3 linked regions of the Homo sapiens genome follow. The protein of the gene in region 1 interacts with the protein of each later gene in a pairwise test. Each region holds a gene or a part of one and is shown on either strand. Other genes may lie near its edges.

Evidence for each region.
Region 2: the proteins of DYRK1A (region 1) and IGF2BP1 interact in binary tests that used the Homo sapiens proteins (3 or more experiments, as listed by UniProt).
Region 3: the proteins of DYRK1A (region 1) and USP54 interact in binary tests that used the Homo sapiens proteins (3 or more experiments, as listed by UniProt).

The regions. Positions count from the first base shown.
Region 1 is NC_000021.9:37,509,693-37,516,805, reverse strand, and holds part of DYRK1A (dual specificity tyrosine-phosphorylation-regulated kinase 1A), read right to left. Parts: intron 4,896-7,113; coding exon 4,275-4,895; 3' UTR 1-4,274. UniProt on the Homo sapiens protein: Dual-specificity kinase which possesses both serine/threonine and tyrosine kinase activities. Exhibits a substrate preference for proline at position P+1 and arginine at position P-3.
Region 2 is NC_000017.11:49,035,385-49,042,384, forward strand, and holds part of IGF2BP1 (insulin-like growth factor 2 mRNA-binding protein 1), read left to right. Parts: intron 1-2,783; coding exon 2,784-3,065; intron 3,066-4,572; coding exon 4,573-4,707; intron 4,708-5,993; coding exon 5,994-6,116; intron 6,117-6,857; coding exon 6,858-6,993; intron 6,994-7,000. UniProt on the Homo sapiens protein: RNA-binding factor that recruits target transcripts to cytoplasmic protein-RNA complexes (mRNPs). This transcript 'caging' into mRNPs allows mRNA transport and transient storage.
Region 3 is NC_000010.11:73,525,343-73,532,342, forward strand, and holds part of USP54 (ubiquitin carboxyl-terminal hydrolase 54), read right to left. Parts: intron 5,494-7,000; coding exon 5,362-5,493; intron 5,182-5,361; coding exon 4,801-5,181; intron 4,570-4,800; coding exon 4,338-4,569; coding exon of another isoform or gene 4,163-4,337; exon of another isoform or gene 3,847-4,162; intron 1,439-3,846; coding exon 1,305-1,438; intron 1-1,304.

The DNA of each region.
Region 1 (7,113 bases):
TCTCAGTGTTAAGGTAGTGTTATTTTTTTTAAAGTTCTGATGCAAGAACACCCACTGAGAGCAGCCAAAATCTGGGACCTTGGCTATGCATAATGCCAAAGAGAGCCAAACACACCAAGCGATGAGCCACTTACCTCAATGAACATGTCTTCCACAAAACAAGCATCCAGTGCCTTCAACACAGGCATACGTCAAAAATTCCTGGTCCAGGGTGAAAGCCCAGTAGGCATCCACAGGCTGGTTCTCAGTGGATTCATTTGGATTAAGGTTAGTCATTAAAAGGGAGGATAACAAATAAGCTATCTTCTTAGGGTTTCTTCTCTTGTTCTTTGTACTACAAATTACTTGGTGATGTATGTTTTCACGCAAGGAAACAGGCCTAGATAAGAAACCAGGGTTATGAAAATCAGAACTTCTCCTCTACTCTCCCTGACACCAAAGGTTTTCCAACGTCTGGTCAACAGACATCCCTAGCAGATTTTTAAGAAATCTGAATGAAGTCTGGGTATACCGAAGTCACGCACGGCTTTTGTCCCCATTACATTTTCAAACTTCCTTCATATATAGCAGTAAGACCAAGTCATGTATTTGGAATGAACCATCTGGTCTATTACATACAGTCTACCACTATAAAAATGGACATAAAAATGAGTCTTGAACTTGTATTCTGTCTATGGGGATACCACCCAGAATGCACCGGATCGCATCTGAACCTGCATTCTGCGACTATCAAAATAAAGGCAGGCCCAAAGGAAACTGAGAAACTGGCCTAGAACTGAGTGCCTGCTATCTCGTCTTCGTGTGTATTTTGATTATGTATCTCCCTATTGGAAGAACAGAAAAGTTCAACACCACAAAAGCTGGGAAGCAGTACAGGGGCAAACTCAATGGTCACTTGTGAGCCTAACATAATTACTGAATCTTTCATGATTTTTTACATGTAGTTTTAAATAAAAATGTCGGTTTTTTTTTTTCAGCCCAATATCCATGTGCCTAGGTAAAATTCTCACACCCTAAGAAGAAAACTAATGGAAGTTTTCCTTTCTTACATGTGGTTAACTTCAACTTTACGCAACCAACCTTAATTTTACAGATTCACGCTTAACTTTTAAATAAGCATCTTGCCTCTCGAAAGCCACCTTAATATATACTGAAGCAGGTGAATTTGTAAAAAGAGAAGACTTTAGGTTAGCAATTGAATCACAGTGGCAAGAATTCTAGAATTCTGATATGGCCCCGTACGAGGAGTTAGGGAAGGAAGAATGAGTATTCGTATTCCTTCCTTCATCCAAGCACGTCAAAGCATATCAGAGAAAACCATCAGACCCTCACATCCAGTCGAAATGCTACCAACTAAAATATGAGCATTTTGAATCACAAAATTATGTAAACATTCAAATAAAAAAATCAATGTGAAAAATCAAAATGATCTGTTAAACCTCCAATTTTTACTTTCAGAGATTGCTGATGCCTATGTCAATGTATCTCAAATAGTTTCCTTTTTACACATTTAACTCAACTTTGATACTATACCTACCAGACCTGGACCAGTTTAATTGCATAGGAAGATTTTTACTATGTTTACATTTTTCTTAAATTAATTTTTAAAAAAGCATAGTAAAGAGTCTGAGGACAAATTATTCAACTGTTTATCATACATAAGACCGCATGACTATAATACAAAGGGGGGTTCTTTTTTCATTTAACGTTACAATATACACAGCAAGTCCGGACTAGATCTTACAATCTGAACACAGGTATTTAACCTTTTCCATGCTGTTTATGTTTACAATGCACAGAAGTCCTGTAACCAAACTGTGTAGTAAAGCACACAAAACTGGACTGTAACATAACACAGTATGCAGAAGCATTGGATTTTATGATTTTCTTTACGTAAATATCGGTTTAAAAACTGCTTTAGTTTTTTGGTGCTTGCTAAGATGTGGCAACCAGCACAGAAAAAAAAAATGACCTGACCCATATGATATCTTAACCTTATATTCCTAAACAGCAGTAACTACTGAATTCCTTTTGATATTGCTATACTCAAGATGATATCCTTTTATTCACTGTAAACCTTTATGAACTACCAAGTTCAAAAAAATCATCCACAGGCTTGACAGTTAATTACAAAATAAATATGGATTTCCTGATAAACAACAAAAAGTTTTTGTAGTTTATAAAAACGAGTATTTCCAAGTTTCCATTCACATTTACATAGTGTTTAGCCTTTCTTTTCTCACTGTTTACATATAAAAACCTGCTTTTGTTCAGAAAAAAAATTGACCTAGTCAGCCACATGGAATTGACCAATAGAATGAAACGCGGTGTTCTGCTGAGTCATCTTAAACAGGTTATCGGCAGAGGTAGATTACTGCTTCTTTTCTAGGCTTCTTTTGATCCTGGACAGGTAAATTACTTATCTTCATTCTCCCAATTCAACCGCTCAAAAGTGTCACACCCCAAAATTGGTCAATTTAAAATGGGAACACAAATTTAGCAACTGCCAGACTGTGTTACATTAAGGCAGCGTAATCTCAACACGAGGCACCTGTTAAATACCAGCCTGTCTGCTCAGGTCACGCATGAGAGTTCTGCTTTGCTTGCACTCATACTCTGGACCTGTTGGTGCAATCAAGGTCTTGCTTTCAAGTTTACAAGTAGGTTAATCAGGAATACAAGAATCAACTGCTGGTTCCATAGCTTCTGGATCCAGTGTCCCTTTACCTTCAGAAGCCTGAACACACTTAGAATGTAACAGATGTTGTAATCTTGAATTAGATGTCAATCTACTATGTTCAGTACACAGATTGCTGTAAATGTATTGGCTATGGATTCAACAACAGTTCCAGTTTTGTTTAAGCAATAGTACAGCCATAATTTTCAACTGACATTTAAAAATGGTCTAGTTACACCTTGTGTCAAAGTGCAGAACTGCTACATTATTGGTTACAGACATCTATGTGCTATAAAAACAGCTTTGGTACAATAAATTATCAAAAAAGAAAATAAATTTTTGTAAAATTCACAGCATAATTGTGAGGCAAAAAAGCAGTCACATAAAATTCTGCATTTTTTAAAAATGTTCAGGATGAACAGAAGACATCTTTGTGCAGAAGAAATGGTGGAGATACCACGTGCCGAGAAAAAGCAAAAGAAAAAGTAAAAAGCAGGAAGGGACACAGCTGTAGCTATTTCCATCAAAGCAAACCACTACTTCTGTGACCTTCAACCAATAAGGAAGTCAACTTTATGACACACGCAAAGTGACCTTGCAATACCTTACAATTAGTGGGTCACAAAAGTCTATTTTAAAAGAAAGGCCTCTTGAATTACCCATTCTCTGTGTTTTCAGCATTAAGGACTGTCTGCAAAAGCATGTCCAAAAGTGATTGCATCTGAAATGGTAGGCTCTTCTAATTTCGAGTCCAAATCCATAAGGCCAAAGGTTATCCCAAAGACCACCACTCAGACCTCCCCAGGACTGGCCACGACCGACCCGTTGATTGCTTCTCAGTGCACCTTGGTTAGGAGACCAGTCACGTTCCATCCTATCTTCCTGTGGCCTCTGCAACGGGAGAGCCACAGGATCCCATGTAATTGCTGCTTTGCTCCTCAGTAGGTTCAGATAGGAGAGTTCTGATCCCCGCCACTCAGCATGCTTACTGTGCCTGACAAACTTCACCACAACCGTCCCTTTCATACAGCTGAAGATGGTGTTTGTGGAAGCTGGAGGTCCCTCTTCCTTACAGTACTGCATTTCCGTGCCCAAGTGTGTTTAGAGGACTTAAAAACCCAAATTTCCCACCCTCCCACCCAAAACAAAACAGAACAAAACAAAAAAAAAGGGGGATGGGGGGGACAAAAAGAAAAAAAAAAAACACCCTCATGGGGCCCTTTATGCAAATTATGTGCAGTGCCTTTTACTTTAAAATTAGTTGGCAAATGACCAAGACCAACATCTGAATATTAACTTTTGCTGAATAGAAAGACAAAAAAACCCCACTGTGACTGGGATGTGGCAAGTTAAAATGGGGGAGCAAAAAGAGGATACCTCTGAGCTATCCATGAAGATGGGTTTGGACATGGCTCTTTTAAACACTTCAATGTCCCTTTGCAATCTTTTCAAGTTAAAAAAAAAATCAGCTTTGCCCTCTTGTAGCGGTTCAGTGTGTTAATCTCCTCCTGATTCAAGCAGCTTTGCACTTTGTTTTTGGAAAAAAAACACCACTTCTATAAAAACACACAAGAAACAAACTCAAGTTTCAATGTAGTCACGAGCTAGCTACAGGACTCTGTTGCACACAAACTCCTGTCATGGGGGACTCTTCTCTATCAGCCCCTTGCCTCATTGTCAGATGTCCTTCAGTCATGTAATGTGCAGGACCTGTATTAGCAGAAAATTGGTATGTTGGATGTCCAGCTATGCCAGTCTCTTGGCGGGGATTGGAGTAGACGGTCAAATTAACGTCCATAGCTCCATTCTGTCCAAAGTCCAAGGTATTAGCAGCCACTGGGCGATTCTGGTAGGCCTGATTGCCTTGGTTACCAGTAGAGGAGGAAGATGTCGAGGAAGAAGTCGTTGAGGAAGACAGGGATGTCATGGAGTGGTGACTGTGGCCAACCTCCATAGAATCTTGGGTAGAGGAGCTATTCGTTGGAGAATTGTAGACCCTTGGCCTGGTCCGGTTACCCAAGGCTTGTTGTCCATGGTGGTGGTGATGGTGGTGGTGGTGGTGATGGTGATGGGAACTGTTACCATGGTGATGATGCAATGCATTCTGTTGAGGGGCTACATGAAAGGTTGTTTCTTGAACAGGATGAGTTTCAACAGTGACCTGTGTAGGAGCTTCAGTGCCTGACCAACCAAGAGGAGCAGGAAATTGCTGACGCACCTGAAAGAACAGATTTTTAAAAGGATTTTTCAGAGGACTGTTTCCAAGCTTTAATCTTCCATCAAAAGCCATGACACTAACAAACTAGCATCATATTAATCAGGGGGAAACGGTTTTTGAAACTTTTAATGTGTTAAGACAGTTTTATAACACAAAATCCCAAATACATTCAAGGGCAAAAAATTTCATCATGAAAGCTGCAATTTTTAGGAAGTTATATCCTTAAATAGGTTCATCTATTTCACTAGCCACTGTCCTTCCTTGGGAGCCCTGTTTATGCCAGGGGTCAGCAAATATTTCCTGAAAAGGGCTGGACAGTATTCTGGGCAGGTCCAAAAGGAAGTCTTTACTTTTCCCTCATGTCCTTCCTCTCTCCATCTTTCTTCTTTCAATAAAGGACTACTATCTACCTAGCTGCTCAACAATGCCTCTGTCCAACCCATGAGCAAGAACTTATGAGTCTACCTGTGAAACAGATTCCAAATTTGGCCTCTTCTCTTCATCCCCATCATCTCTTGCCTACGCTAACACAACAGCCCCTTAAATGAACTCCTTGTTTCCATCCTTGCCCTTCTCCAAAGGGTAGCAGGAACAATCTTTTCTTAACACAAATCCAATCACTTCCCTATTTAAAATCCTTTAATGACTTCTCACTGCACTTAGAAAAACAAAATAAACCCAAATGGATACAACGATCTGCATCATCTGGCCAATGCCCACTTCTCTAACCTCTTTCTCCACCCATCCTATCCCTGGCTACCTGAGTTCCAAACAAAGAAGACCTGCCTTCCATTCCTCCCCTGGGTCAAAATCTCTCAAATGCCTCAGTGTACTAGTAACACGCTGCTCCCTTCTGCCTAGAAATGTTATTTCTTGGATTTTCTTATTGCTTGGATGTCTCTTTTTCATCGCTTCAGTTCCAGAGCCTTCCCTGACCACTCTGGCTGATGCTGCCTCAACAACTGTGGCAGAAGCTACTGGTTGTGCACAATATTCTTCTCGTTCCTGAGCACATGGCTACACAACACTTCCCAGCCTCCCTTGTACTTACTGATGGCCATATGTCTAAGCTGTCAATGGAATGTGAATGAAAGCTTGTGTCACTGCTAGCCTGGCACACAAGATAATACCTCCCAAGTCCTTCTGCCTGCTGGACACAGTAGACAAGTAGGCCCTAGGGCAAGGTGGAACCACAAGATGGTAGGAGATCAGGACCTGGAAGACGGCCTAGCCACTAACCTGAACACCTATTCTGGACTGTTGCACAAAAATGAAGGAAACTTGGTACTCTTTAAGCTACCATATTTTGGGGGTCTGTTATATCAGAGTTTGGCCTATTCTAATTAATACATCCTATCCAACAAACAGTCTTTCTCTACCAAATTATCCTTATTTTCTTTTTAACAGCTAATGCTACTTGCCATTTTTCTTCATGTTCATTTTATTTACTTGTGTCACTGTAAGCTCTAGGAAGGCAAAAGGCTCAGTCTCTATCCAGTGGCTGGCACAAATTGTTAAGGGTTTATTCAACAAAGGTGGTCTGAGAACCAAACTTTTAAGAGATACTACTGAAAACAATCAGTAGAAAAGCTGGCAGTGAGTTCTCAGAAAATACTATATGGTTTTTATATGAAGTTAATCAAGTTACTGGATTAGAAAATCACATGGGGGGCAATCTGGCAATAGTTATCAAAATTATAAATCACATTACCCTTTGAAACAGTCATTCTGCTTTCAGGAATTTATATCACAGATAAAATGTCTATGTGTGAATGAGACATGTACAGTGGTGCCTCCTTATCCACAAGAGATACAGTCCAAGATCCCCACTGGATGCCTGAAACTGCAGAGGACTAAACCCTCTATATACTATGTTTTTTGATCTGATAATCTAGATGGCTACAAAGCAAAGTAACTTATCTACTGTGTGGACATGCTAGACGAAGGGATGAGTCATGCCCAGGGTGGGACAGCATGAGATTTCATCGTGCTACTCATAACAGAATTTAAAACTTACGAATTGCTTCTGAAATTTTCCACTTTATATTTTTGGACCGTGACTGACTGAATAACTGGAACTGTGGATAAGAAGGGACACTACCGTACAGGGTTATTTATTAAACTACCATTTGTAAATAGTAAAAAAGGTTGGAAATGAACTAAATGTCCATTAATAAATAGGGGACCGGTGGCCAAGACGGCTCACATCGGTAATCCC
Region 2 (7,000 bases), on another chromosome or scaffold:
GTCTAGACTAGGTTGTAAGTTTCCTGCTTCATATAGCTAGTGAGCAATAGAACTAAGATTGGAATACTGGTGTCCTAATTCAGTTATCTTTGCCCTGGGAGCCTGGGCAGATGCGGATGCGAGGTGCGCTGGGAGGTGGCAGCGGTCTGGGGCAGTGGCCTGCGGTGGGTAGGCTGGGACCTCGCAGTCTCCCCACACACATGTGGGGCCCCACCACATGGCGCCTCCCTGCGGGCGTGCACCTGCAGCGGTGGGGGTGGCTGGGGCACCTGGGAACGGGGATGCCTTGCCCTCCGAGGTCTCCCCTGGGCGGCCGCCCATGCCATTTTCCGGGCTGCTCGCCTTCTAGAAGTTCCTGCAGGAAGCTGGTGATGTGGCCTCCCTGACCCGGGCCCGCCCCCCACCACTTTGCTGGAGGGGTAGTCAGATTCCAGCCGGGATACGTAGCAGCAGCTTGGTGGCAGGCGATAGGAAAATGGGCAAAAGCCCCAACTGGCTGGAAGGCAACCCCGGGGGCCGGACCTCCTTGTGGGAGGGCCCGGGACTGCACTAGGCGGGAGTGGAGGCCGCGGCTCCAGGCTGGTCTCGGCCTGGTAATTTGACACGGCCAGCCGGTCACTGTTTAAGGCACTGTGTACCATTTTACTAACTTAATCCTCACGGTGACCGCATTTCCCAGCTGGGCCAACTGGTGCGGGGTTGACTGGAAGCGACCGGGGTTGACTGGAAGCGACCGGCATAGCGCTTGGCAAGTATATAGCAGGTAGTAAAATGGCTGTAATTTTGAAAGTTAGCTTTGTGAAGTGTTGGGGCTGCGGCATCTGCTGGTGGTGTGTGGTATTACAGCCCCGTGCTGGCGGACCCCATTGGGTTGGGGAGCGTTGCGAGATTGTGGCCCCAGAGCCAAGTGGGCAGTTAGGGGTCTCTGGAGACTCTGGAAGGAGAGGTAGCACAAAAGACAGCGGAGGTGTTCGCTTCGGCAGCACATATACTAAAATTGGAACGGTACAGAGATTAGCATGGCCCCTGCGCGAAGATGGCACGCAAATTTGTGAAGCGTTCCATCAAAAAAATAAAAAAATAAAAAATAATAAAAAAAAATGGGGGACTGCGGAGGAGCTAAAATTTCGAGACTGCATGTTTGTTTTTTTTTGTGCACCAGCAGCTCATTAGAAGAATTCCTCAATTGCTGCTTCAACACCCGCCACGATGGCGTTCAACCTGGCAGATTAATTTAACAACTCTCTGATGGGTTGCCCTGAAATTTGAAAAACAGTGCCTTGGGCTGGGCGCGATGGCTCACACCTGTAATCCCAGCATTTTGGGAGACCGAGGCGGGCGAATCACCTGAGGTCGGGAGTTGGAGACCAGCCTGACCAACATGGAGAAACCCCATCTCTACTAAAAATACAAAATTAGCGGGGCATGGTGGCGCATGCCTGTAATCCCAGCTACTCGGGAGGCTGAGGCTTGAACCCGGGAGGCGGAGGTTGCACTGAGCCGAGATCACGCCATTGCACTGCAGCCTGGGCAATGAGCAAAACTCTGTCTCAAGAAAAAAACAAAACAAAACAAAAAACAGTGGCTTAAGCAAAGGCCACAAGAAAGAATTGAGATCAAAGAGGAGTGTGTGCCATGGCTATGGAGGGGTTTCAGTTGTGAATTATGAAATGTCATGTAAACCATTTCAAGCATTTCAAGGAGTTTGAATTTTATATAAAAAACAATGGGAAGACGCTGCAAGTTTTGAAGCAGCATCTCAGACATGTTGAAAAAGATGTTTGGATCCCTAAAATAATGAGAGAAAAGGCCAGAGAGAGGTGTTCTGAACAACTTCAAGATTTTACCAAATGTTGCAAGAACTCTGGAACCCTTACGGTAGGAAAATGCTGGAAAGAAAATTCTCTATTGAAAGGACGTCTAACTGCTCACTATAATGATCCAGCCTTTTATGAAGAATGCAAAATGGAATACCTGAAGGAAGGAAGAATTCAGAAAAACTGGAATTTCTACAAAGAGAAGGCTACAGAAACTTCCCATAAGCCTGTAGGCAAATATTCAAATGATATTCAGGAACTCTAATATTCATGGAAGTCATTTATAGTATAAATTTCCTTAAATAATGGACTCAAGAATGTGTGTTTGCTTTATCCTAATTATGGAAATATTAATTTTTATCTGAAATAAAGATCTTTTATTTCAAAAACGAAAATAAACCCCACACTTCATTAGGGCAGGATTAACATTTGAATTCTACATGTATACATTTCAATCTCCTTTGACCTTGGTTTCATCATCTCTAAAGTTAGGAGTATGTAGTAGTTAGCAGTTGGTTTCCTCACCCTGTAGTAGGGATTCCTCAATCCGGGAAGTGTATGTGTTAGCTTTGTGGAGCCTCTTCAGGTCTGTGGTAGGCTTTCCAGTTGGCATGGGAGTACTTTGAGATCTATGGCTTGCTCTTCCTTTTTAGGCTAGCAGAACCCTATACTTTCTATTGGACTGGAAGCCCATTTCTCTGATGGTTCCAGTGGAAAGCCTTTGTGAACAATAAATCCCAACTAAGTGTTAGGGAACACTGTATTTATTTACTTTTCCTTTGAAGTCTTTGATGCCATTTAGACTGGAAAGTTGTGAAAAATGGAGGTGGAGGTAGTGGGCAGGTGACTATCTCCTTTTCTTTAGTGTGTTCCAAGCTGTAACTTACTAGAGTGCTTTGGCCAAGAGAGCATCTGGTATGATTGGCATGGATTGGAATGACCTGTAGACTCTCACTCTGTCCCCAGAGCCATCATGAAGCTGAATGGCCACCAGTTGGAGAACCATGCCCTGAAGGTCTCCTACATCCCCGATGAGCAGATAGCACAGGGACCTGAGAATGGGCGCCGAGGGGGCTTTGGCTCTCGGGGTCAGCCCCGCCAGGGCTCACCTGTGGCAGCGGGGGCCCCAGCCAAGCAGCAGCAAGTGGACATCCCCCTTCGGCTCCTGGTGCCCACCCAGTATGTGGGTGCCATTATTGGCAAGGAGGGGGCCACCATCCGCAACATCACAAAACAGACCCAGTCCAAGTGAGTCTTGGCTCTTGGGGAATGGAGGTTGGGTGCTAGGGAACAGTGGTTGGTACCTAAAGAGGCCTCCTGGAAGCATGCTGGAGACATCAACATTTACCTTTTAGGAAATGTTGCCTGGAGCATTCAGGGGTCCCTGCTTCCAATACCAGCCTCCTGGGAAAGGGAGGGCAGATAGGGAGGGAGAATGGGTCTGGGGTGCTAGGCCACACACTCGTATTAGCAAGAGAGATTCTATAATTTCTCATGTGAAGTTTCATAAAAAAAGTCTCCAAGCAAACCTCATTTTGATGAGTCAGCAACTCAGTGCTCTGTGATTTCATGATCACTTAGTGTGGTAACAGGGCTGGCCAACCTGTCCAAAATTAGGACCTTCATAATTGTGTCCCATCTCCCATTCTGCCACTGCCACCTTCTTTCTTTAATATTTTTTTTTTTTTTTTTTTGAGACAGAGTTTTGCTCTGTTGCCCAGGCTGGAGTGCAGTGGTGCGATCTCAGCTCACTGCAACCTCTGCCTCCCGGGTTCAAGCAATTCTCCTGCCTCAGCCTCCCGAGTAGCTGGGATTACAGGCGCGTGCCACCATGCCCAGCTAATTTTTGTATTTTTAGTAGAGACAGGGTTTCACCATGTTGATCAGGCTGGTTACGAACTCCTGACCTCGTGATCCGGCCGCCTCAGCCTCCCAAAGTGCTGGGATTAAAGGCGTGAGCTACCACACCCGGCCTTTTCTCTAATCTTTATATCTGATCAGTGTACTCAGTGGCAAAGAACAGGTCATATTATGTCCTTATCATAGTAAATCTTGTTATTTACTTTGAGTTTGGGGCACTGTGTCTTCTCTTTATATTTGTTTCAAGGGGGACATACGGAATTCAAGCGGAAATGCAGCTTTGGAGCTGTGGGCTGGTAATTCCCACCCCTGCATTTGTGTCATAGGCTGTGTTCTTGTCCCCAACCACTGCTTGCTTATTTATTTATTTTTATTTTATTTTTTGAGGCAGAGTCTCACTGCGTCACCCAGGCTGGAGTGTAGTGGTGTGATCTCAGCTCACTGCAGCCTCCTCCCAGGTTCAAGCAATTCTTGTGCCTCAGCCTCCTTAGTAGCTGGGATTACAGGTGTGCACCACCACACCCAGCTAAATTTTTTGTATTTTTAGTAGAGGCGGGGTTTCACCATGCTGGCCAGGCTGGTCTCAAACTCCTGGCCTCAAGTAACCCACCCGCCTCGGCCTCCAAAAGTGCTGGAATTACAGGCGTGAGCTCCCGTGCCTGGCCACCAACCACCTGTGGATTGAGACACTGCTGGTCTGAGACAGAATCCACAGTAACAGACGGGTCATATTTCTCCAGTCCTTTCATTGCCCTTCCCAAAGTTGTACTTGATTGTCCTTGTTTCAAGAAGAGCAGGTTCTATGCCTTTGACTGAGGAGGGGTAGTGGGGTGGGGAGCCTGAAGTACTGGTATCACTGGGGACAACTAACCAGCCTTGTCCTTGTGGCCCCCAGGATAGACGTGCATAGGAAGGAGAACGCAGGTGCAGCTGAAAAAGCCATCAGTGTGCACTCCACCCCTGAGGGCTGCTCCTCCGCTTGTAAGATGATCTTGGAGATTATGCATAAAGAGGCTAAGGACACCAAAACGTAAGTCTCCAGCTTTTCTTGGATCTTCAGGGTCTGCTAGTCCAGTTGAGCCTCCCCAACTCAACTTTCAAGCTTTTATACAGACATATAAGAAATACAGTCAGCAATTGCACAAAAAGATGTAAACTGAGAAATAAAATCTTTCTTCTTACAGGACTTTGTCACCTAGGCTGGAGTACAGTGGCATGATCTCAGCTCACTGCAACCTCTGCCTCTGGATCTCAAGGGATCCTCCCGCCTCAGCCTTCTGAGTAGCTAGGACAACATGCATGCACCACCACGCCTGCCTAGTTTTTTGTGATTTTTGTAGAGATGGGGTGTCGCCATGTTACCCAGGCTGGTCTTGAACTCCTGGACTCAAGTGACCCACCCAGCTCAGCCTCCCAAAGAGCTGGGATTACAGGCGTGTGCCACCACACCCCATCCCTTCTTATTCCTGTCGTATGACCTCCTAGAAATTCTGTGCACTCACAGGTGTGTGTATATTGTGTCTGCGTGCCTGCATGTACGGATATGTGTGCCTGTGTGTATTCACTTGTGCGTGTATGCACATGTGTTTTAGCTCAGAGAGAATCACACTGAACAGGCTGTTCTATACTTTTTTCATTTTCTGTATCAGCACATATATTAGTACATATGGACAGACCGCATTATTTTTATAGCTGCATAGAATTCCACAGTATAGCTATTCATAGTTCATGTAATCAATCTCCTATTTCTTGATGGGTGTTTAAATTGTTTTAAACTTTTCCTTATCAGAAAACAGTGATGCAAGGAATCTGCTTACACATGTTCCTTTACACACTTGTGCTGTTTAAAATAGCTTTATTGGCTGGGCACGGTGGCTCATGCCTCTAATCCCAGCACTTTGGAGGCTAGGAGTTCTAGACCAGCCTGGGCAACATAGTGAAACCTCACCTCTACAGAAAATAGAAAAATCAGCTGGACGTGGCGGCCTGTGCGTATAGTCCCAGCTACTCGGAAGGCTGAGAAGGGAGGATCGCATGAGCCCAGGAGGTCAAGGCTGTGGTGAGCCTTGATAGTGCCACTGCATTCCAGCCTGGGTGATAGAGTGAGACCCTGTCTCAAAAAATAAAACAAATTGGCTTTATTGATGTTCAATTGATGTATAATAAATCATACATATTTTTAAAGTATGCAGTTTGATAAGTTTTGAGATGTTTTACTTGGAAATGCCAAGTCTGGGGTGGCATGGTGATTGAGTCTTCATGAAGCCCACAATTGAAGGAACTCTTGTCTTCCACTTCTTCCTTTGTCTTCCCAAGGGCTGACGAGGTTCCCCTGAAGATCCTGGCCCATAATAACTTTGTAGGGCGTCTCATTGGCAAGGAAGGACGGAACCTGAAGAAGGTAGAGCAAGATACCGAGACAAAAATCACCATCTCCTCGTAAGGCTCTCTTCTATTTCCCTGTTTATGAGTGGGGGATGCATGGGGGCCAGGGTCAGTATTTCATCATGGAACCTTGATATGTGCTCTTTTAAAATGGGTGCTCCTTCTGCCTCTTGAAGAAAAACAGTCGAAGTGGTAAAGAGCATTTAAAAAATCCCTGTAAGGACTGGATCTGCCCATTCCCACTGCCATATGGGGCAGGGGTGTTGTAAGGTGCTGCCTCTACAGTCCACGTCCAACCACTTCACAGCCCTCTTTCCCTGTGGCTCGTGGACAGCCTGCAGCTAGGAGCCAGGGATTCAGGGCTTTAGGCTTGTCTGTCACTGTGAGAAGTGACCTTGGCCCTTTTCTGTCTGTGGTGGGCTGCTCCTGCAAGCAGTGTGCTTCGTTTCATCAGAGACTAACCTGTGGGCAAAGTAATTGCTCTTGTCCAAAAAGGTATAGGACATGGATTATGTAGAATCAATGGGGAAACTTGGAGGCACAACCATAATCTGAGATTGGATCCATTGCTAACAGAGGAGTTTGAGTTAGGTGTTGGCATCTCCCTCCATCTTACCCCCTGCCCTGGTTACAAACTGGGAACACCAAAGACTGGGGTTGCAGAGTTATTTGCCAGAAGTTGAATAGGCTGCAGAAATGGTGGGCCTGTGACTCAGCTGGCCTCTCGTCTTTGTTACTGCCGGGGCCTGGTCCTGGCCTGCCAGTGAAAGGACACAACTCTGCTCTTTCTGCCAGGTTGCAAGACCTTACCCTTTACAACCCTGAGAGGACCATCACTGTGAAGGGGGCCATCGAGAATTGTTGCAGGGCCGAGCAGGAAATAATGAAGAAAGTTCGGGAGGCCTATGAGAATGATGTGGCTGCCATGAGCGTGAGTG
Region 3 (7,000 bases), on another chromosome or scaffold:
TTAGATCAAATTGTGGCGCATAAATAGGGCTTATTATACAAACAGGATGGTGGGGTGATATGGTGTGTGAAGAATCTTGTCATAACTCCTTGCTAATTATCTTTTACCAGTTGAAGAACGCTGTTGGTGAATTCTATCCAACTGGTCCAGAATTGAGGACTATTCAGGAGATCATGAGACTCAGTCATTAGTGTAATTAAAAAAATGCTGGCTATCTGAAGAGAAGGGAGAATAGTCTCATGCACGATTCACAAGTTTCTTGAAACAATGTTATTCAACATGAAATAAATTAAAATGTGGGGAATAAATCAAATGTATAATTACAATGGGAAGCCCAAATGTCTTCCACGTGTCTCTAACTATAACTTACTAGAGCCCAGGATTCCAGAGATATCTGCCTCTATAGGCATTGTTCTGCTCTGCCAGATGTCCACAACCTTTAGTATACATACCTAAAAGGGTTCATGCCTTTTTACTACTGCTGCTGCAGGCCTTTCTTCCTGCTACCTCTAAGAATTGTCAGTAACTATCAAGAGAATTGGTAGTAAGACTAAGATATTTAGCCAGGGGTAAGGATAAATTTGAATTGCTTATTTCCAAGTTTTGCAAATAGCCACATGTACCCCTTTGGTATGTCAATTCATAATACTAAACAATAAGAAATCCATTTCCCAAGAGGCTGTCCCTAATCCAAGGAAAGCCCTAGGATTTATTCTTCTGAAGAATGGGGATGTTAGTAACACTGTTCACCATATTTCTGTCCCTTCTTGCTCCCACAAGGGCTCCCTCCAGGTAGAAAGAAATATTCATGCAGGCTGTGATGGAGAACAAAAAATAGATAAATCCAAAGATGGAGCAACTGAAATGACTCTACATTTACATTCTGATGGAATACTCAAACTGTAACTGTCCTCTTTTTTTTTGAAATGGAGTCTCACTCTGTCGCCCAGGCTGGAGTGCAGTGGCACGATCTTGGCTCACTGCAACCTCCGCCTCCCAGGTTCAAGCAATTCTCCTGCCTCAGCCTCCCGAGCAGCTGGGACTACAGGTGCACGCCGCTACGCTGGTTAATTTTTTGTATTTTAGTAGAGACGGGGTTTCACCATGTTGCCCAGGCTGGTCACGAACTCCTGAGCTCAGGCAATCTGCCTGCCTCGGCCTCCCAAAGTGCTGGGATTACAGGTGTGAGCCACCGCGCCCGGCCTGTAACTGTCCTCTAATTTCAAATGTGCTCAGGTAAGTCTGGTCCCCAGACAAAACTGCCGGTCAAATCCAGTCCTCAAATTCAGTGTCATTCTGCTTACCAGAGAAAGGCTGACTCTTTGTCCAGCCACCCATGGATGCTGTGGAGTCTACCTCCAGGATGCTACTGCTGTGCGACTTTGGGATATGACGCCAGGAAGGAACCAACCCAGCTGATCTCTTAGCACTTGGATCCCTTCAAAAGAGAACTCAGAGTCTAGTGAAAGCATGAAAGCAGGTTATAGCAACATTCCTAGGACTAAATCTCTCTCTCAAAAAAAAAAAATCAAACTACACAATTAGAGCTTCTGCTAAACTACTTCTGAAGAATTGAAATATCCACTCATTCTCCTATCTAACCTCATCTCACCTCATTCACAACTTGTGCATCTAGCACAGTATCTGGTACATAATACATATTCAAAATCTGTTGAATGTACTAATGAACATATTGGTTTCATATTTATTTCCTTCTTTCTTACTAAACCTTTGTAGCATCTTCTCATAAGTAAAACTCAACAGGATCCTGTGGACAGGGAAGAACATTGACAGAGTATGAACATGTGGTTATCACCTTTGTAGAAGATATAATCATGCTTTTCAAAGCAGCTCTACTATTAGAAAAATTGCCTTGGCCAGGTACAGTGGCTCATGCCTGTAATCCCAGCACTTTGGGAGGCTGAGGCAGGCGGATCATGAGATCAAGAGATCAAGACCATCCTGGCCAACATGGTGAAACCCCATCTCTACTAAAATTACAAAAATTAGCTGGGTGTGGTGGTGGGCGCCTGTAGTGCCAGCTACTAGGGAGGCTGAGGCAGGAGAATCGCTTGAACCCAGGAGGCAGAGGTTGCAGTGAGCCGAGATCGTGCCATTGCACTCCAGCCTGGTGACAGAGCGAGACACTCCATCTCAAAAAAAAAAAAAAAAAAAAGAAAACAGAAAAATTGCCTCTGTGGCAACTCAGTAAAAATAATGTATGGAGATTTGAAAGTTATAAAGCAAACTGAGCCCTATGGGCAGGGTACAATGAGTGCTAATAAACTGTCATCATTATTATGAATATTATTAGCATTATAAAACACAAAGTCCCAGTGACCCTAAAACAAATCAAAATAAAAACTATCCCACCATACTGGGTGTGGTGACTCACACCTATAATCTCAGTACTCTGGGAGGCTGAGGTGGGTAAATCACTTGAGCCCAGGAGTTCAAGACAAGCCTGGGCAAAATGATGAAACCCCATCGATACCAAAAAAAAAAAAAAAAAAAAAGCAACGACAACAAAACACTGTCCCAAAATAACATTTGGGCTTCTTCTCTGATTTTAGTATTACATAAGTTTTAATTCACTAATCCATTCTTTTTGAGATGGAGTTTCGCTCTTGTCACCCAGGCTGGAGTGCAGTGACGTGATCTTGGCTCACTGCAAACTCCGCCTCCCGGGTTCAAGTGATTCTCCTGCCTCAGCCTCCAGAGTAGCTGGGACTAGAGGTGCGCGCCACCATGCCCAGCTAATTTTTGTGTTTTTAGTAGAGACGGGGTTTCACCATGTTGGCCAAGATGTTCTCGATCTCCTGACCTTGTGATCCACCCAGCTCGGCCTCCCAAAGTGCTAGGATTACAGGCATGAGCCACCGCGCCTGGCCCACTAATACATTCTTTTTTTGTTTGTTTGTTTTTTTGAGATGGAGTTTCACTCTGTTGCCCAGACTGGAGTGCAATGGCACGATCTTGGCTCACTGCAACGTCCACCTCCTGGGTTCAAGTAATTCTCCTGCCTCAGCCTCCCAAGTAGCTGGGATTACAGGCTCCCACCACCACGCCCGGCTAATTTTTGTTTTTGTATCTTTAGTAGAGACGGGGTTTCACCATGTTGGCCAGGCTGGTCACGAACTTCTGACGTCGTGATCCACCCGCCTCGGCCTCCCAAAGTGCTGGGATTACAAGCGTGAGCTACTGCGGCAGGCCTAGTCCGTTTTTGTTTCTTTTTTTTTTTTTTGAGATGGAGCCTTGCTCTGTCGCCTAGGCTGGAGTTGCCATGGCACGAGCTCGGCTCATTACCACCTCCACCTCCTGGATTCCAGCGATTCTCCTGCCTTAGCCTCCCAAGTAATTGGGATTACAGACGCCCACCACCATGCCTCACTAATTTTTGTGCTAGCCTGGGATTACAGGCGTGAGCCAACATGCCTGACCTAATCTGTTCTTTAATACATTTTTTTACTGTGTATATTTAAGGTATACAACATGATGTTATGAGATACATAGAGACAGTAAAATGGTTACTATAATTGAAGGAAATTAATATACCCATCATCTCATATAGTTACCCATTTTTTTTGTTTTTGTGGCAAGAGGAGTTAAAATCTACTCATTTACCATGAATCTCATATGCAGTACAATTTTATTAATTGTAGTCATGTTTTACATTAGATCCCTAGACTTGTTTATCCTACATATCTGAAAAATACAGAAATCTTCACAAATTTTTGTGCCACCTTTGAGCAGGAGCCATGCTAATCTTCTCTGTATTGTTCCAATTTTAGTATATGTGCTACCAAAGCAAGCACTAAACAATTATTTCATTATCCTTAGCAAACTAAGACAGGAACAGAAAACCAAATACAGCATATTGTCACTTATAAGTGGGAGCTACATGGTGAGGACACATGAACACACAGAGGGGAACAACAGACACAGGCCTATCGGAGGGTGGAGGGTGGGAGGAAAGAAAGGATCAGGAAAAATAATTAGTGAGTACTAGCTTAATATGTGGGTAACAAAATAATCTGTACAATGAACTCCTATGACACAAGTTTATCCTAACAAACCTGCACATATGCCCCCTGAACCTAATTTTTTAAAATTATTTTATACATGATAACTGTATTTCAAATAGAAAGTTCTCTCTCCTTTCTCAAGTGCCTCTGTTCTTCCAGCAGAGGGTGCTGTTGTTATAGGAAGTTGAAAGAGCACATAGAGATAATAGCAAAGGCCATCCCTCCACTTGTCTCAGCCATGCCTGAAAGCCCCAAGTAGGTGGCTCACATTGCTGCAAGAGACAATGTTGCTGTTCAAAGGCCAAACAATACCTGTAGACATTTGAGCTCTCAGGCAGGGCTGCATCCAGGCTGACAGGGCTGCTGCTGTTCCTCTCACTGCTTTCATAGCCAGATTCCATTCGCTGGATTAGTCGGGGGTGCTGCTCTAAAAGGTGAGAGCCTGGCCGTGCTGGGCCCCAGCGCTTGTACTGGGGGCTTGGTCCACCAAATTTAATGTCGTAAGAAGGTGGCTTGCTTGGTTCATCTGGTATAAATTCTTTAGCTATCCCAATCAAAAGACAGGTATGGAAAATGAGGTAGATTTAGCATTTGCCTAAAATCAAGACCTAACTAGCTCCTCCCTCTAGCTACTTATTCACTGAACTCATATCCCTAAAACACCCGACATCAGAGTAAAAGTGCCCCTTGCCAGATGTACCAAAAAACCCAGGTTTTAAAAAGACATAAATCAACTTTATTCAAAAGCCCAATTCTTCCCTAATTATCTCCTCACCTGAATCCTCAGAAAAGGGGCTAAGCTGGGTATAGCCACAGTGCTTCCTTTTGTCCTTACTAAAGATACTGTCAATATTCAGAGATTCTCGTTTGGGTCTCCATGTGGGACGATACTTGCTGGAAGAACTGGATTTTGACTCACTGCTGGTACTCTCTATTTCCCAGTCACGAGAGTGTAAAGGCAGGGTCCTAGGAGGTTTTTTGTCAGGCTGGTCTCCTCCTCTGCCCCTGCAGTGAGAGCCTACATTGGTCTGAGAAGCCAGGGATGGTCTGTTATGGATCATATTGCTGACTGTCTCTTTAAAATCTCTCAGCCTGTTGGTGCTGCTGGATGGTTTGGAGGCATTTCTAGGAGCCTGCTTCTCTTTCAGTGTTTCTCCTAAAAACACAAAGAATGAAAGAAATATAGATGTTTAAAGTGATCATGGATACTAGACCCCAATGTCGAAAAAGCAAAGAAAAGCCCTCTGAACAGAAAGGAGAAGCCAACAGTCTGGAGCATGACAGAAGTTTGATAGAGTGAATGAAGGAGAAAGAGAAGCAGTGCAGAAGGGCTTGCCTTCACTGTGGTATCCCGAGGCCTGGGGCTCATCGCCTTTCCTCCTAACCCGACCAGAGCTCCTCTTGCGCTCTATCAGTGACCCTTTCTTGGATGTGTGTTTCTGATTACATTCACTATCAGTCAGGTGTCCTGAAAAAACAAGGAAATTGGGGTAAGCTGGTATCTGAGACTAACCTCCACCCTCCTGAGAACCTACCTAATCTCCCTTTGGGAGTGCCACAAATTTAGAGTACCCATGGAACAGAAGCTGTAGGGCATAGGCTATCTGATTTCAGTGTAGGAACCTCCCAGTAGATAAATGCAGAGAAGGGCCAGGTGCAGTGACTCACACCTATAATTGCAGCACTTTGGGAGGCTAAGGCGGGCAGATCACTTGAGGCCAGGAGTTCGAGACCAGACTGACCAACATGGCAAAACCCTGTCTCTACTAAAAATACAAAAATTAGTCCGGCATGGTGGCATGTGCCTGTAGTCCCAGCTACTGAGAGGCTAAGGCATTAGAATCACTTGAACCCAGGAGGTTGCAGTGAGCCGAGATCACGCCACTGCACTCCAGCCTGGACGACAGAGCAAGACTGTCTCAAAAAAAAAAAAAAAAGATAAATGCAGAGAAGCTGGGAGCATCCAAATTTACAATGTCTCCTGAGCAATGACCAATCTCAATCCCACTCCTAATCTTCCCCAGTGACCCAGAAGGACTAATGACATGTTTCTAGGTAACTTTTTAAAGGCAAAAGTTTTAAAGATTATATAAAAATGTCAGGTAGCCATATACTTTCACTCTCATAAATTGAAGACAGAGTTTTCCTTTTATTTATTTAGCAACACATATCAAATAAAGTCTGATTTTCAGTACATCTGGTATTATCCTGGATACTCCAGACTTTGCCCACAAGAGGTCTGATTTTATATGGCTTTAAGACCCAGTTCCAAGCTTTCCTTAATTGTGGATCATTTAAAGGGCATTTCAACTTTGATTCTCATTCCTATCCCCAACCCATCTTCACGAAACTTGGCTCCATCCAGAGATTACACTTCATAGTTCCTTAATACTAATCACTGGGAAAACCAGGAGAGCTGGGCTCTTTTATGTAACTTGCCCTGCTTCATGCCCATAGTATGCAAATACATGAGCATGATTTGATGACAGCAAAAGTCAGATTCTAAAGGATATAAGCAACTAAATTGCTAGAAGCCAGAGATGAATTAAGCAGGTAAATTAAGTTTGAAGATATGCTTAGAAAAAAAAAACCTAGGTCAAATGCATGGAGAGCTAACAAAAATTTGTTTTCACATGATAGCATATGAGAATCCTTATGCATATTCAAGTATCACCAGTGTAGTGATATGGATACATATTTTCAATCAGTTGCCCCTTGGAATCTTGTATTGCTTTTATTTGGTCGTTTGCTACCTCTGTGCCCACAAGAAAGATTTAAGAGAGGAGGAAATAACTTGGAACAACTAAGTCTTTTTTTTTTTTTGAGACGGAGTCTCGCTCTGTCACCCAGGCTGGAGTGCAGTGGTGCGATCTCAACTCACTGCAAGCTCCGCCTTCCGGGTTCACGCCATTCTCCTGCCTCAGCCTCCTGAGTAGCTGGGACTACAGACGCCTGCCACCACACCCAGCTAACTT